2 separate regions of the Homo sapiens genome follow, and region 1 is linked to region 2. Evidence: fine-mapped expression QTL. A gene starts in region 2. The other region holds a variant in brackets. All regions are shown on one strand. Distances are from middle to middle. Region 1 overlaps CCNL2 (cyclin L2). Region 2 holds the start of B3GALT6 (beta-1,3-galactosyltransferase 6).

Region 1 (8,318 bases), 160 kb before region 2:
TTCGGCCGCGAAGGCTTTGAATGGTGCGTTTGAAAATACGGAAACTTTCTTCTACTCTAGGTGGCCATGGCTACCGGGCAGGTGTTGTTCCAGCGGTTCTTTTATACCAAGTCCTTCGTGAAGCACTCCATGGAGGTAAGGCTTCCTCCTGCACTTCATTCCCAGCGAAGTATGTTGAGGGTAAAACGGTTTGTTACTTTGCCCGGTTACTAAGGGAGTGAGTACTTGCCCCCCAGTCTGAGCTCTGTGCCGGAGGGTTCTGTTTCTTGACTTTTTTTTTCCCCTGGGTGCACCTCCCTTTTGGTCTGAATAGCCCTCAAGCCTTTGGCGGCCGTCAGGACGCCGTGGCTGGGGACAAACATGGGCGTGTTGCAATGCTTCCGCTTCAGCATGTGTCAATGGCCTGTGTCCACCTGGCTTCCAAGATAGAAGAGGCCCCAAGACGCATACGGGACGTCATCAATGTGTTTCACCGCCTTCGACAGCTGAGAGACAAAAAGTGAGTCAGTCAGAGCTGTCTAGTCTATCATAGATGCCTATTTTCTTTATTTCTGATTAAGTTACAGTAAGGCTTGTATAACACAATACAGGCCTGAGGCTCTAAACCTGTGGGATATTCATGAGCGCAGTCTCAAGCTCCACCAACAGAGCCTGCTCAGAGGCATCAGTAGATGCGGTTTAGTAAGGGCAGGGGCTCCAGTGAGGACAGTGCGCTGTGGCGGGTCGCGCTGGGGCTGGCTTCCTGCTTTACCCATGTCAGTGCACGGCCCTGCTGCTGCTTCTGTCCCACAAGTTTCTGAGTGCTCTGGAGCAGGGAATCTTAATCTCAGCACTATTGACATTCAGGCTGGATAATCTTTTTTTTCCTCCTGAGACAGGTTTCCTGTTGTCCAGGGCAGAGTGCGGTGGTATGATCATGGCTCACTACAGCCTCAACCTCCTAGGCTCAAGAGTTTCTCCTGCCTCAGCCTCCTGAGTAGCTGGGACTATAGGAGCACGCCAACCATGCCAGCTAATTTTTATTTTTTATTTGGTAAAGATGGGGTCATGCTGTGTTGCCCAGGCTGGTCTCAAATTCCTGGGCTCCAAGGATTTGCTGGCCTTAGCCTCCCAAAGCACTGGGATTACAGATTTCAGCCACCGCATCTGGCTGGGTAATCTTTAGTTGTAGGGGATTCTCCTGTGTGCTGCAGGATTCAGCAACATCCCTGGTCTCGACTCACTGGATGACAGGAGTACCCCACCTTAGATGTGACAGCCAGAAATTCTCTCATACCAGATGTGGGAGCTCACACCTGTCATCTCAGCACTTGGGAGACTGAAAAAGGAGGTTTGCTTGAGGCCAGGAGATTGAGGCTGCAGTGAGCTGTGATGTCACCACTGCACTCCAGCCTGGACAACAGGGTGAGGCCCTGTTTCCAAAAAAAACGAAAGTCTGTTGATGTTGCTTCATGGCCCTGGAATAGTAAAATTTCTCCAGCAGAGAACCGCTGCCTCTGACCTTAGCCCAGGGTTTATGCACCTGAAGTTAATTGAAGTCCTTTAGAAAACACAGCCTCTGGCCGGGCTGGCCTGTAATCCCAGCACGTTGGGAGGCCTAGGCAGGTGGATCACCTAAGGTCAGGAGTTCGAGACCAGCCTAACCAATATGGTGAAACCCTGTCCCTATTAAGAACACAAAAATTGGCCAGGTGCAGTGGCTCACGCCTGTAATCCCAGCACTTTGGGAGGCCGAGGCGGGTGGATCACGAGGTCAGGAGATCGAGACCATCCTGGCTAACACGGTGAAACCCCGTCTACTAAAAATACAAAAAAGTTAGCCAGGCGTGGTGGCGGGTGCCTGTGGTCCCAGCTACTTGGGAGGCTGAGGCAGGAGAATGGCGTGAACCCGGGAGGTGGAGCTTGCAGTGAGCTGAGATCGGGCCACTGCACTCCAGCCTGGGCGACAGAGCAAGACTCCGTCTCAAAAAAAAATAAAAAAAAAATTAGCCGGGTGTGGTTGCGGGTGCCTGTAATCCCAGCTATTCGGGAGGGTGAGGCAGGAGAATCGCTGGAACCGGGGAGTTAGAGGTGCAGTGAGCTGAGATTGTGCCATTGCACTCCAGCCTGGGCAACAAAAGTGAAACTCTGTCTCAAAAAAAAAAAAAAAAAAAAAAAAAACAGCCTTGCCGAGCGCAGTGGCTCACGCCTATAGTCCCAGCACTTTGGGAGGCCAAGGCGGGTGGATCATCTGAGGTCGGGAGTTCGAGACCAGCCTGACCAACATGTAGAAACCCCATCTCTACTACAAATATAAAATTAGCTGGTCGTGGTGGTGCATGCCTGTAATACCAGCTACTTGGGAGGCTGAGGCAGGAGAATTGCTTGAACCTGGGAGGTGGAGGTTATAGTGAGCCAAGAGCGCGCCACTGCACTCCAGCCTGGGCAACAGAGTGAGACTCCATCTCAAAAAAAGAAAAAACATGGCCTCATCGGCCTCCCAAAGTGCTGGGGTTACAGGTGTGAGCCACTGCACCCAGCCCTTTTTTTTTTTTTTTTTTTCTGAGACGGACTCTCACTGTGTCTCACCGTGTCACCCAGGCTGGAGTGCAGTGATGCGATCTCGGCTCACTGAAACCTCCGCCTCCTGGGTTCAAGTGAATCTCCTGCCTCAGCCTCCTGAGTAGCTGGGATTACAAGCACCCGCCACCACGCCCGGCTAATTTTTGCATTTTTTTAGTAGAGACAGGGTTTCACCATGTTGGTCAGACTGGTCTTGAACTCCTGAGCTCAGGCAGTCTGCCTGCCTCGCCTCCCAAAGTGCTGGGATTACAGGCAGAGCCACTGCACCTGGCCCATCTGTATTTAAATAATTGTGCTTTCATTGGTTCTGTGGTTATTGAACTGTGAATATGTACCTTCCTATCGTGAGTCACATAAAGTGCTTTAGCATTTGTGCCACGAGATCCTAAAACTTGCTATGTTCGGTCTATGCTTGTGCACCAGAAGCTGTTGATCTATAAGGAAAAGCAGGGAGGGATCGTTGGGAAGGGATGAGGAGGTTGGCACTGGGCTGTGGGGAGCGGTGTGCAGTTTTGTTCATCAGAGGATGTGGACTTCATAGCGATGTTGTGTTGTGGGGTTTGTGTTAGGTGCTCATAGTTGGAGGTAACGACGGGATCTCAGAAGCCTTGCTCTGCTTGACTGTGGTGCAGACCCTGTGCTCTCTCTCTGGCAGGAAGCCCGTGCCTCTACTACTGGATCAAGATTATGTTAATTTAAAGAACCAAATTATAAAGGCGGAAAGACGAGTTCTCAAAGAGTTGGGTTTCTGCGTCCATGTGAAGCATCCTCATAAGGTGGGTGTGCGGCTCCTGCCCTGCGAGCCCGCCTAGGCCGCTGCTCCTGCCTGGCCGCCTCTCTCCACCTCAGTGCAGTTGAAGGCTCTGAAGAGGACTGAGTGCATCCCTGACTTGGCTTTCCAGTTTCTATTTATAATCTCAAGAATAGTTCCTGACGTATTCGTCTTCTAGTGTCAGCTGTTTATTTTAGTAACACATTTTTAAGTGTTTTGGAAATGGTATTATTTAAGTTTGGGCTTTCAAAAATAGTGGTGAGTTTATAAATGTTGAATTTTAGTTTATGTTTTCCTTTCTCTACAGTTAATTTTTTTTTGTTTTCTTTTTTTTTGAGATGGAGTTTCGCT[C/T]TATCGCCAGGCTGGAGTGCAGTGGCATGGTGGCAGTGGCAGTGGAGGCACAACCTCCACCTCCCGGCTTCAAGCCATTCTCCTGCCTCAGCCTCCTGAGTAGCTGGCACTACAGGCACGTGCCACCACGCCGAGCTGATTTTTGTATTTTTAGTAGAGACGGGGTTTCACCATGTTGGCCAGAATGGTCTTCATCTCTTGCCCTCGTGATCCTCCCACCTTGGCCTCCCAAAGTGCTGGGATTACAGGCATAAGCCACTGTGCCTGGCCTTTTTTTTTTTTTTTTTTTTTTTTCTTGAGACGGAGTCTTACTCTGTCATGCAGGCTGGAGTGCAGTGGTGCAATCTTGGCTCACTGCAACCTCTGCCTCCCAGGTTCAAGTGATTCTTGTGCCTCAGCCTCCCAAGTAGCTGGGATTACAGGCATGCGCCACCACACCTGGGTAATTTTTGTATCTTTAGTAGAGATGGGGTTTCGTCATGTTGGCCGGGCTGGTCTCAAACTCCTGATCTCAGGTGATGCACCTGCCTCGGCCTCCCAAAGTTCTGGGATTACAAGTGTGAGCCACTGCACCCAGCCTCAACAGTTAATTTTCTACATTTGCTTTAGTGATAGCTTTACTTTCTCTTATGGAGAAATTAGGGGAATTCTGGCCCCTTTAGTCTGAAATGACTGGCGAGTTTTGCGGCATGTACTGACTGAGGACCATGGCCGTGACACGGTCCCTCACTCCCAGCGTTGTGGGTGCCTTCTGTGTCACATGGAAACAAAGCACTTGTTTTCCCAAAAAATTGTTTCCATCTTTGGTTCCATCTCCTTTTTATTGGTGGGTTTCCTCATCTGCTTGTTCGGCTTTCTGCCATCTGTTCAAATTATCCACAAATTGCCCACCACAGATTGAAGTGCTTTTTTTTTTTTTTTGGAGACGGAATCTCGCTCTGTTGTCCAGGCTGGAGTGCAATGGCGCAACCTCAGCTCATGCAGCCTCCGCCTCCTGGTTTCAAGCGATTCTCCTGCCTCAGCCTCCTGAGTACCTGGGATTACAGGCGTGCACCACCATGCCTGACTAATTTTGTATTTTTAGTAGAGACTGGGTTTCTCCATATTGGTCAGGCTGTTCTCGAACTCCTGACCTCAGGTGATCTGCCCGCCTCAGCCTCCCAAAGTGCTGGGATTATAGGCATGAGCCAGTGTGCCTGGCCTGAAGTGTTCTTCTCTGTTTGCTGAAAGTATGTTCATATTGTGTTTTGGTGAGTTGTTAACTGGGATACAGAGACGTGTAGGACAGGCCAACCTCACTGGTGGAAAGGCATTGAAGACTAGAATGAAACCAGCCCCATGAAGAACGAGGCCTGTGCCGTGGGTTGTGTGGCTGGGCTCACGGGCATGCGTCCTGCCTGGCTGCCAAGGCAGACAGCAGGTGCAATCGCAAAGCTCCCTCCAGCTGAGCCGTCCGCCAGACGTGTGGCCAGGAGCCACTCCTGGGATCTAGCTTGAGGCTCTTGTTTGCTGCATGGACACCCACAAGATCTGAATTCTGGGCTCTTAAGGTTCTTGGTAATAACTGCCTGACCCGTATCTTCCAGATAATCGTTATGTACCTTCAGGTGTTAGAGTGTGAGCGTAACCAACACCTGGTCCAGACCTCATGGTGAGTTGAGCTTCCTTGTTTTATGAGACCAGCAAGGGCAGTGCAGGAATGTGTTGACTTGAGGCACTTGGGCAGTGGGTAGGCAGCCCAGTGACTTGGTTGTGGGCTGGAGTTGTCCGAGTGCCCAGTGCTCCTGCTGTATAAATTCCAATCAGACTCCCAAAATGGGCACTGGCAGTCACGGTAGGTGGCCCGTCCCCTCCCTGCAAGCCTGGACTTCCTGTGTCCCCCACCCTGAAGAGAGCAGTCAGTGGGCTTCCTCTGGGAGCTGTTGACTTGGCGCAGGGGGACCTTTTCCTGGGGAGGGTGGAGGGACAGGCTAGTGCAGACTTGGTCTGTTTCTCCACTGACATTGCATCCCATGGGAGAGGGGCAGAGAAGGTTCTGGGGCCGATTTTAGCAATGCATGTGCTAGAAAGGAACCCTAAAGTGCAATGTAGTATTTGGGGGATTCTGGGGATTCTGGTGAATTTTTTCCCATGGAGTTAAGTCTGTAAGGGTCATATTTTTGCTGACTGAATTGTCTGGTGCTATGACATGTTTAATAGAGAACCTATTTTGACTTTTCTTTTCTGTACTCTTTCAATCAAAGGGTAGCCTCTGAGGGTAAGTGACTAAGACTTCTCCTCTGCTGTCCAAGCGCTTTGGTGCAGGGACAGCGGCATCTTCAGCCAATCCAGTGCAGGCTCTCCACCGAAGGCTGGCTCTAGACTGGTGGTACGCACATAGCATAGCCATGGCCGACTCCTGCTGTGGTTCTCTGACGATTGTGCTTCTTGTTAATCCTCTGTCGTGCTTTGGTAATCGTATTGATTAGAGTTGGTAACTGTCTTGACTTGAATTTTGTCCCTTTAAAACTGCTGTACCTGTATGATAAAGATGCAGTACCTTTCTCTTAAAAAAAAATGCTATGGAAAGCTGTGAGAATTGAAGAGACAAATTGGCTGTGTCAGTGTGGGGTTATGTCATGATTTCTAGAAGCCCTGAAGTTGCTCTTTTGAGCAGCTTTGCATGACACGCTCTGGTAAAAGGTGTGCATCTTTAAATTATTTCATGGATACTTTGAAAAATATTGTATCACTTCAAATACAGCAATAAGTTTATATGTTCTCAAGATTTCATTTGTTTTTAAGAATTTTAAGTTCGTGGATTAATATCACTACTTGAATACTGACAGTTGTTGATTAGACACCGAAAGGTTACTGATTGTTGAATGTATCTGTGTTAGAGCTGTGCACTGGCACGCTTGCATCAGGGGCTGGGGCCACACGGCCGCCACACAGATTCCCCCGTGATGCCTGGAGCTGCTTCCAGAGCCGGGTGTCTCCAAGAGGCACCTGTAGGACTTCCCATTTAGAAATCTCTTGAGTGGGTTTGTATGTTACCTTCTCCAAGGTTTATTTAGGACAGAGATATTGCTGGAAGGTCATGGGTCAGATTCCCTCACAACCCACCTCGTCTGCGGGTGCAGCCCCACTCCAAGGCTCCCCGTTATTGGGGTATGTGAGGAGCAGTAAATATAAAACCAGTTCAACTGTCCTCATGGAATCACCCTTTCTGTTTTTGCAGTATTCATAAAGCTAGTGTAAGGTCTGGTTTTAGTCTATTAAATCTTAGAGATCTAAAGGAAATGCTCAAAATGTAGCCAGGTTTTAAATGCTTTAACTTTTAAAAAATGTAAATTTTTGTATGTTTATAGCTTCTAAATATGAAAGTTAAAGAATGTACTGTGATGAAATGTTCAGTATTATGTTGCTTCTCAGTATCATGTTGCTTCTCAGTATTGTGTTGCTTCTGATTCTATGAATGTTCATTTTAAGACCCCTTGTTGAAATGGGACAGTTGGCAGCGGCTCTGATGAGCCCGAGAAGAGGCCTGCCCTTGGGTGCGGAGTCTCCCTCCGCACGATGCTCCCACGCGTCCAACTTGCACCCAAGGGGCTTTTCCCTCTTCCAAGTGGACTCCTTCAAGGAAGCTGCAGCTCGGTCAGCAGAGAAGGGGCCTGCCGCCAGCGCCCTGGAGGAAGAGGAAGAGGAACCCAAGAGGATGGCTTGTCTCCCAGCAGCCACACCGGCTTTGTGCTCAGCCAGTTCATTTGAGTTTGCATGTTTCTCTGCACTATGGATTTTGAGCATTTAGATTTCTTTAATCAAAAGCGTTTTAGTGACTCCAGTAGACATTTTCTTTCTGAGGCATCGTGCTTTGCATGAGAGCAGGCCAAGGTTGAGGGGAAAAGTAAAGTTAAAGTCGGTTCTCTTTCATAGCAACACGTATTGTCTGACATTCAGCCAGCTTTTTTTTTTTCTAATAATTTCTGTGCCTTTCTGTCCTGTATTTACTGTATTTAGAAAAAGCAGCTAGAATATTTCTCCATTAACTCTTGAGATTCACAGGACTGTCTAGCTCTGAGTCCTAGCAATAGACTCCTTAGAGGAGTAGTACGTTTATCTAGATTTTCTCTAGATAATGCAGGCGGAAGACCTGGGTTCCCGGGTGGGGCATTGCAGTTCTTCCTGTGTTTGGCTTCCAGGAATTACATGAACGACAGCCTTCGCACCGACGTCTTCGTGCGGTTCCAGCCAGAGAGCATCGCCTGTGCCTGCATTTATCTTGCTGCCCGGACGCTGGAGGTCAGTGTGTTGCTACTATGGAGAGATTCTAGTCTGATTTTTTTTTCTCCAGCCTCCAGTAAACTTTACTGTGTTATTCTTCAAATTACTCTAATCTGGGCCAAAGCATTTTCGTGACCAACAGGCTGTTTTTTAATTGTCCTGAGTCTTGCTGGCCGTGAAGTTGAGGAAAGTGTAATGATGATAGTGTTTGTTTTTACAGATCCCTTTGCCCAATCGTCCCCATTGGTTTCTTTTGTTTGGAGCAACTGAAGAAGAAATTCAGGAAATCTGCTTAAAGATCTTGCAGCTTTATGCTCGGAAAAAGGTTCTTCGGCATTTTTTCATGTAACGTATGCGTTTGTGTTTGGCC
Region 2 (8,318 bases):
TGGCACGCACCTGTCTCTGGCCACCTGCTCCCGAGGACTCCCCAAGCCGTCTGGGCCGCTGGGGCTTCCATTCCTGCAACGTCAGCTGGTCTCACAGTGCCACAGCTGGGGAGCCTGGGGCCGGTGGGGCCACAGGAGGGCCGTGACCCCCTTAGACCTGAGGACTCTGAGCTGGGACAGTCAGCCAGGGAGAGGGTGGAAGAGTCTGGGGTGACCCAGGCCGCGGGGGCAGCCCTGCTGCAGGCTGGACTGATGGAGGCCTGCCGGGAACAGGGTGTGTGCTGAGCCCTGCGGGGAGGAGATCTGGGCCCAGTCAGTGCTGGGCGTCTGTGATGCCACAAGGTTGCAGGAGCCCCTGCCTGCGTCTGCACCGAAGAGCGCCGGGCACAGGGAACTGGGCTGGCATCCTGGGGCTGCTGGACGGGGCGTCTTCCCTCGCAGCCCTGGAGGCCACGCTCCTGACTCTGGGTAGAGCCCTTCCTTGCCTGGTGGGGTGGGGGTGGAGGGTCCTCAATCCTTGGCCTGCAGAGGCATCGCCTGGGTGTCAGTCTCTAGCCACACAGTGGCTTTTTCCCAGGTCTTTTCTGGTAAGGACACCAGTTCCGTGGGAGTAAGGCCACCTCAGGACCTTGCCTTAACGCAATTCCACCTGCAGAGACCCGACTTCCAGACAAGGTCAGTTTGTAGCTGCTGGGTTAGGGCTTGGAATATCTTTTAGGGGGCACAGTTCAGTCCCGTAACAGGAGCCTTGACAGCCAGGATCCCAGCCAGACACAGGTGGGCAGGTGGGAACCTGGAGGCCTCAGGGGCGGGGGTGCCTCCGGATGCAGGTAGCACTTTGCATCTTGGGGGTGACCAACCAGGCCACAGGCCCGGCGGGTACCCAGGGCTGGCCCAGAGAGCTGGAGCCAACGTCAGGTGCCTGCATGCCAGCCTCAGGGGGCAGAGAGGCAGGACCATAGTCCCCAGGAAGAGGGCAGAAGGGGGTGCTCTCCTCCTGGGGGATCCTGAAGGGACCAGAGCCCATCCTCTTGGCTTGACCTGCATTCCCTGCCGGCCCTGTGCCTCCTGGGGGCTGTGTGCGTGTGGCTGCGCCGTGCCCGTCCAGCCCTGACACTGTCCCCTCCATGGTAGGTTCTCGGGGCCACTAGAGGAGAAACATCCGTGTGGCTGAGGAAGAGTTGGCTGTTTTGTATCCCAAGTTCCCACATGGAAATGAATTCGGTGACCCCCCATCTCCCGAGGGCCTCCTGGTTTGGCCCTGGTCTCCGGGAACCGAGTACCTGGGTGGGTGGGGAGCTGTACAAGCTAAGACCAGGGAAGGACGCCTGGGGGACGGATGCCACGGCCCGTGCACGGTCGATTGGAGCCGCAGGGCAGGGAGGATCTACAGGGCAAGTTCCAGGTGAGACCAGAGAGAGCTGCAGCTGCCCCGGCTCTGGAAGCCCCCAGCCCTCCCGAGGCCCAGCCTTCAGCCCACGTATCCTCTGAACCCGTTCACCACGGTACGGCTGGGGAGGGTCAGCCTGGGGCAGGCTTTGTTCTGATATGAAATTTAATGTCTTAGGCTGAAAAACACTAAATTTCCATTTTTTTGTAGGTCAGAAGTGGTTGCAAACTGGATTTTTAGACTCTTCCTGTTGGGGGTCTCGGACATTTGCTCTTTTCCACAGCGGCCAATTCTTCAGAGCCACAAAGAACTGGGCGACGCAGGCCAGAGGTGTGGGAGTCCAGCCCTTGGTTCGAATCCCGCTCTCCACTGTCCATGGGGTTCTCAGCAAGCCCTCTGGCCTCTCCAAGCACACGCAGGGTTCCTCAAGCAATTCCAAACTCCAGAGAAGACATCCCAGGTAAAATCGGATGGCAGGGACCTGGGACACCGCTGTGACGGGCAGCCCCTGGGCTCGAGTCCACAACTCCCACGGGAGGGCAGGGCCCCATCCTGCTCACACCGGGGTCCCCAGCCCTCGATCCTCACGAGTCCTCGTCCAAGAACAAACTGTGCACACACGGGCGGTCAGTCCTGGATTCAAGGTGGCCCATCGGAGCTCGAACTCAACGGCCTGACCTAGGGACGCCTCCAGTCCCACCCCTACCTTTTGGAGGTGGGAGAATCACCGTGCAGGTCACTGACCCACTGACCACAGATCACCACTCTCTCCCGCCCCCGTTTCTTCCTCCTGAGACCACTGCTGCCTTCAAACGCAAGTAACCCAAACCTGCTCCCAAACCCATGGCAAGACTGACCCGGAGCCTAACCCAGCCCTGCCCCGAGCCTGACCCTGATGCTCGAGACTAGACCCCAGACTGGACCCGGTCCCAAAGTGGGACAACAAAGACCACAGCGGGGACCACCCAGGTCCCCCAGAGAGAAAACCCGCGTCGGACTCCAGGGAGCTCATGGTAACCCCTTGTCCTGGGGCAGCTTCATTTTACTTTGGCAAGGACCGCAGTGTTCGCTTTTCTCATTAAACGAGGGGCTTTCAAGGATGTGTTAAAGTACGTGAGAGACGGGCCTGGTGCCGGCTGGTCCTGTTTTCTTAAGGCGGAAGTTGGGGAACCGCGTCAGCACTCCGGGGTTCGGATTCCTGGAACCTGGGGCAGAGTCTGAAATAAAGCAGCACCGGCCCTGTGTGGCGCGGACCCATGGGAAGCCTTGAAAGGAAAGTCTCTTCAGAAAGAAACAATGGGTTCAGTGACTTGTACACTGAAAAGATAGATGGCCAGTTTTAAAGTTCTCCTGCGTTTAAACACGGGCAGCAGCGGGGTTGACGGTACAGGCACCAAGTTCTGACATAAAAGTCTTTCCTTAAATCATGTAAAAAAACCGAGACGTGCGCACTGCCAACTTACACTCATCGACACAAACTTACAATATTTATAAATAAGTCGCAAGCAAACACTGAGTTACATTTACCACGAAGTCACTGGACAGAGACCAAAATCCCATGAAAGCGGATTGATGTGAAACCACGTTAGATCTGAGACGCAGACGTGAGAAACGCCACTGATAAGAGACACGGAAGATCGGAGCCCAGCCCCGTGAGCCGGTCGGGGACAGCACGGGGGTCAGCGTGCGGCCGGGCCCGGCTCAGGCTCGCTGAGGTCCAGGAACGGGCACCTCCACCTGGACACGGCGCGCTGCCCCGGCAACCCCCAGGGGTCTCCCAAACGCAGACCGGGACGCAGCGACCACAAGCGTGGCTGCGGGACGGGGGCCTTGGGGCCCGGGCGTAGTGCGCCCGCTCGGCACCTGCCCCAAGGCGCCGCCGGGTGAAGCAGGTGTCCCGGAGGGCCGGGCCGCGGCGGCTCAGGGGATGCCCTCCCTTCTCTGGCAGCACTGCGAGGGCGGCGCGGACCAGTCGTACACGTAGGACAGGCGCAGCTGCACCTCGCGCTTGCACAGGCGGCCCTCGCGCGCCAGCGTCGCGTGCTTCTCCAGCATGTCCTCCAGGCTCTGCTTGTGCGTCACCAGGTACTGGTTGCTGCAGCCGCGGGACCGGTATTCGGTGTCGAAGCGCGGGTCGTGCTCCCGCTGGACGTCCACCGGCGCCAGCCAGGCGCCCAGAGACACGTCCTCGCTGTGCCAGGCGCGCAGGTAGTCGCGGCTGAGGCGCAGGTAGTGCACCAGGTCGGCCGAGAGCACGTAGCCGCCGCCCAGCGCGTAGGGCAGGTAGTAGTCGCAGAGTTGCCAGGCGGCCTCGCGCCAGCGCCCCCCCGGCTTGACGCGGCCGCGGCCCGAGAAGAAGCCCCAGTAGAGGCGGCGGCGGCGCGCGGGCTCGCGGGCGCGCAGCTCGGCCAGCAGCGCGTCCAGCCGCGCGAAGGAGTCGTCGTCCGCCTTGAGCACGAACTCGAAGGCCACGTGCTCGTCCAGCCAGGCCAGCATGGCCAGCACCTTGGCCGTGAGGTTTTCGTAGGCGTCGCGCAGCGCGGGCAGCAGCAGCAGGTCCCCGTGCCGCGCCTGCTCCCGCTCCAGGGCGCGCCGCTCCTCGGCGCCCAGGCCGGCCGTGCCCACGGCAAAGCGCGCCCACACGTCGCCCGGGGCCCCGCGCCGCGCAAGCCACGTGCTGCGGATCACGCTGCGGCGCTCGGCGGCGCGGGGCGCGCTGGCCACCAGCACTGCCAGGAAGGCGGCGGCGCGCGCGGGCGCGGGGGGAGGCGGGCTGCGGCCCGACATCGCCCTGGGGTCCCCGGGCTCGGCCGCGCAGCGCGCCAGGTAGAGCAGCGCCGCCCCGCACAGCGCCAGCGTGCCCAGGCCTAGCGCCGCCCGCCGCCGCCACGCCCGCCGCAGCAGCTTCATGGCGCCCGCGCCGGGCCGGCGGCCCAGGCCGGACTCGCGAGTGCGCAGGCGCCGCCGGCTCGGGGCGGTGCGCGTGCGCACGGCGCTCCTGGGAGCGCGCCGGGGCCTTCCGCAGACGCCGAGCCCCGGGGCGCTCGGAGGCCGGCGGCCAATCGGCGGCCGTCACGTGGCCTCGGGCACCCTTGTCATTGGTCAACCTCGGAGCGGCCCCGCGACCGCTTCCGCCCGGAGGAGAGATGGTGGCGCCGGCGTCCCCTCCGTGAGGTCGCGCCCGTTCGCACCGCCCCCGCCCGCAAGAAAGATGGCAGTGGCCTGATCCGGGCCCGTTGGCGGCGTCACTGACGCTTCGCTCCGGTCCTCGGATCCCGAGCGCGGGGAGGCAGACCGGTGAGTGAGGGGCCCGGGACGGCCGCTGCAGGCCGCGGGGCCAAGTGTACGCCGGCCGGACGGCGAGGGCGGGTCTGGAGGCCGCCGCCGCCTCCCGCCTTGGGCTGGGGCATCGTCCGTCCGCTCGGCCTTGAGCCCTGGCGAGACTCCGCCGCCACCGGGGCTCCCGGGGTTCCCGGGGGCAGGGACAGGCCGACGACGCTGGCCTCCCCGGCCGCCGGCACGTCTGGTCTCCTACTGGCCAAAACCTACGAATGCCACCGGGAAACGGAGGCCCAAGGGGTCTGGTTGGACTCGCGTTTATCGGCGAGGCGACCTTGGACAAGCTGCCCCGCTTCCCTGCGCCTGCGCTTCCGCTTCTGAACCGCGTGGACCCTCATCCCCAGTTAGTAGGATTTGGAGATGTGAAGTCGGCTGTGTGGAGCCCTTGATGTCTGGCTCAGAGGCGGTGTTATGAACCCTGTTGAGCTTTTAGAATCTAACCGTGTGTGTTGTTAACTGCCAGAAATAGCCTCGTTCCACCAGAGCTGAAGCCCAGGGATGGCAAAGAAATAGCGTCTCTGCCTAAGCTGTTTCCCACGTCCGTTTTGCAAGGGTGTGTTGATTCCTTGCTGGGAACTGAGCTGCTAGGGGATGGCGAAGTCGAAACCCCATTCCGGTGGGACCGGCCCGCTCCGCTGTGCTGCGAACCTGGCACACCGTGATGAATAGATACTCTGAAGCCAGGAGAGGAAGCGCCACTTGATGGACTCCTGATATTTATAGTTACTTTTGGGTTACTTTTTATTCCCCCTTTTTCGAGACAGGGTCTTATCTTTTTGTTTTTGTTTTTTAAAGAGACGCAGTCTCACTGTGTTGCCCAGGCTGGTCTCACGATCCTCCTGCCTCAAGTAAACCGTGTAACTCATCAAGATATGTAGAATCAAGAACTAGCTTTATTTTCTCTAGGAACAAAGTACAGTCTCTTTGCACACAGCGTGTGTTTTACGACTGTAGTTAGTGGAGTCAGCACCAGGAGGAGGTGTCTTGGTTCTTATCCAGGACTCTCCCCTGGTCAGGCGATCTGGGACGACAGGAATAGAATTATGCCACCACTAGGGAAGGGAAAAGCCCTCAGCCATGTTCAGAAAATCAGGCCGGGTGCATGGCTCACGCCTATAGTCCCAGCACTTTGGGAGGCCGAGGCAGGAGGATCACTTCAGGTCAGGAGTTAGAGACCAGCCTGGCCAACATGGCAAAACCCCATCTCTACTAAAAATACAGATTAGTGGAGAGTGGAGGTGGGTGCCTGTAATCCCAGCTAACTGGGAGGCCGAGGCAGGAGAATCACTTGAACCTGGGAGGTGGAGGTTGCAGTGAGCCGAGACTGCACCACTGCACTCCAGCCTGGGCGACAGAGTGAGACTCTGTCTCAGAAAAAAAAAAAAAATCAGACATGAGCCCCTCACCCAGGGTTTCCTTCCTTGGGGGAACTCAGGCTTGTACCCCTCTTGGTTTGTGGCAGACTGCACTGACTTCAGGACCACTTTCATGGCGGCCCCACTGGTGTTTCTCGATACCTGGAGGCAGCATTTTTTCGTTTAATATTACCCAGGGTAGCATTCGTTGAGCGCCTACTGTGTGCAGGCAGAGTGGCAGGTGCCAGAACAGTGAAGCTGAATAAGACGGCCACAGAACAGGAGTCTCAGTCCATGTGTGTTGAGGGAACAGCTGTGACATGGCGGGGCCTCAGCGGCACCCGAAAGGACCCGCAGGTGTTTGCCGGAGGGGCAGACTGTGAAAGGAGTAGGCTCGTGGGTGAGAAGGACCCCGAGTTCCCTTTGGGATACATGAGGCATGAGGCCCTGTGAGCCCCTGCTTCCCACCAGGACTGGCCACGCCTCGGACGGCAGGACAGACTTCTGGGCTCCTCGGCCTTGGCGTTCGCTCGCGAGTGTGGGCAAGGGCACATGTGTGTAATACGTGCATGCGTGAGTGTGGATGTGTGTGTGCACATCTGTGTGTGGGGGTTGTGTGTTTGTTTGCTGGGACCAGGCCCTGACGCCCTCTGCACTTAGGGTTGGCTGTCTTCGCAAAGCCTGGTCAGTCGGGGGGAGAGGGGGAGCCTCCTGTTTCTTAGTGAGAAGCTGAGGCCGGGGAGGCCACATGACTTAGCTAAGGTCATAGATCTCAAGAATGTTCAAGTCAGGGTCTGGAGAGTGACCCTAACCCCATGGGTCAGTGGCATGATGCCAGGAGGGACAGAGCCGGGCCCCACAGGAAAGCTGTGCTGCAGGTGTTGGGCGATGGGGACAGGTTAGCCCCTGGAGGTGCTGACAGCTCGAGAGAGAGATGGAAAGACGGAGAGACAGGGCTGAAAACTCAGTGTCTGTAAAAAAAAGACCGGGCACAGTGGCTCACGCCTGTAATCCCAGCACGTTGGGAGACTGAGGCAAGAGGATCGCTTGAAGCCAGGAGTTTGAGACCAGCCTGAGCAATACAGCGAGACCCGTCTCTACAAAGAGTAAAATAAAAATAAATTACTGGGCGTGGGGGTGCACGCCTGTGGTCGCAGCTGCTCCGGTGGCTGAGGCGAGAGCATCACCTGAGCCCAGAGCATCACCTGAGCCCAGGAGTTCGTGGTCACGGTGAGCTGTGGTCACCGCTGTACTCCAGCCTGGGTGACAGAGCAAGACCCTGTTTCTAAAAATAAAGAAAAAAACACCACGTGTGGTCCGGAGAAAACAAATGCCACGTGTGGTCCAGAGAAAACAAATGCCACGTGTGGCCCGGAGAAAACAATGCCACGTGTGGTCTGGAGAAGGCAGTGCCACGTGTGGTCTGGAGAAGGCGATGCCACATGTCTGGATCCTGTGAATCGAGGATATGTTTCATGTTGCAGGATAGACGTGCTTGGGGAAGTCTTTGCTGAGTCTTGCTAATGATGTGTCTGTGTCTCTCTGCAGACTGTGAGCTGCTTGTCCCCATCCTGCGGCCGTCCTGGGGACACAGAGCCCTCCGTGGTGCCCGGGGATTGGATTGGAGCCAGGACCTCACTTCCTCCTCTGCCCCTGCCCCTGCCCCTCCCAGCACCTGGCCCACACCCTGCAGCCCGCCCCATGGTCTGGCCCTGGGTGGCGATGGCGTCCAGGTGGGGTCCCCTCATTGGCCTGGCTCCGTGCTGCCTCTGGCTCCTGGGGGCAGTCCTTCTGATGGACGCGTCTGCACGGCCTGCCAACCACTCGTCCACTCGAGAGAGAGTAGCCAACAGGGAGGAGAATGAGATCCTGCCCCCAGACCACCTGAACGGGGTGAAGCTGGAGATGGACGGGCACCTCAATCGCGGCTTCCACCAGGAGGTCTTCCTAGGCAAGGACCTGGGTGGCTTTGATGAGGACGCGGAGCCGCGGCGGAGCCGGAGGAAGCTGATGGTCATCTTTTCCAAGTAGGTGCCGCCATGTGCCCAGACTGGGGGGCTGTCCGCGTGCGCTCGCCTGTGTGTTCCTATCCTGGCTTTGCGCGGTGGGGGGCGCCGGGCCCTGTGTCGGGACCTGCCGGGCTGGGAAGACGTGCCGGTGATGAGCGCCACTTCCAGCCTGCTGTGTTTGCGCGGAGGCCTGCGCTGGCAGCCCAGAGCCGCTCCTTGAATGCC

The links.
Region 1: its variant is fine-mapped to the expression of B3GALT6 in whole blood (TOPMed, PIP 0.98).

Annotation. Positions count from the first base shown.
Region 1 is chr1:1,390,414-1,398,731 of GRCh38, reverse strand. It overlaps CCNL2 (cyclin L2), which reads left to right. Exons shown (of 11, transcript NM_030937.6): 2 at 61-135; 3 at 390-499; 4 at 3,218-3,338; 5 at 5,272-5,336; 6 at 7,867-7,966; 7 at 8,169-8,273. Among named protein-coding and RNA genes, the nearest start is that of CCNL2, 4.8 kb to the left of the region's middle. RefSeq lists an enhancer at 5,270-5,770. The variant C/T (reference allele first, on the strand shown) is at 3,686.
Region 2 is chr1:1,228,261-1,236,578 of GRCh38, reverse strand. B3GALT6 (beta-1,3-galactosyltransferase 6) reads right to left here and starts at 4,342. Exons shown (of 1, transcript NM_080605.4): 1 at 1,538-4,342. The coding sequence starts at 4,300. The coding sequence ends at 3,311. SDF4 (stromal cell derived factor 4) reads left to right here and starts at 4,578. Exons shown (of 7, transcript NM_016176.6): 1 at 4,578-4,687; 2 at 7,633-8,111. The coding sequence starts at 7,807. RefSeq lists enhancers at 1,975-2,476, 3,261-3,942, 3,943-4,624 and a silencer at 4,241-5,100.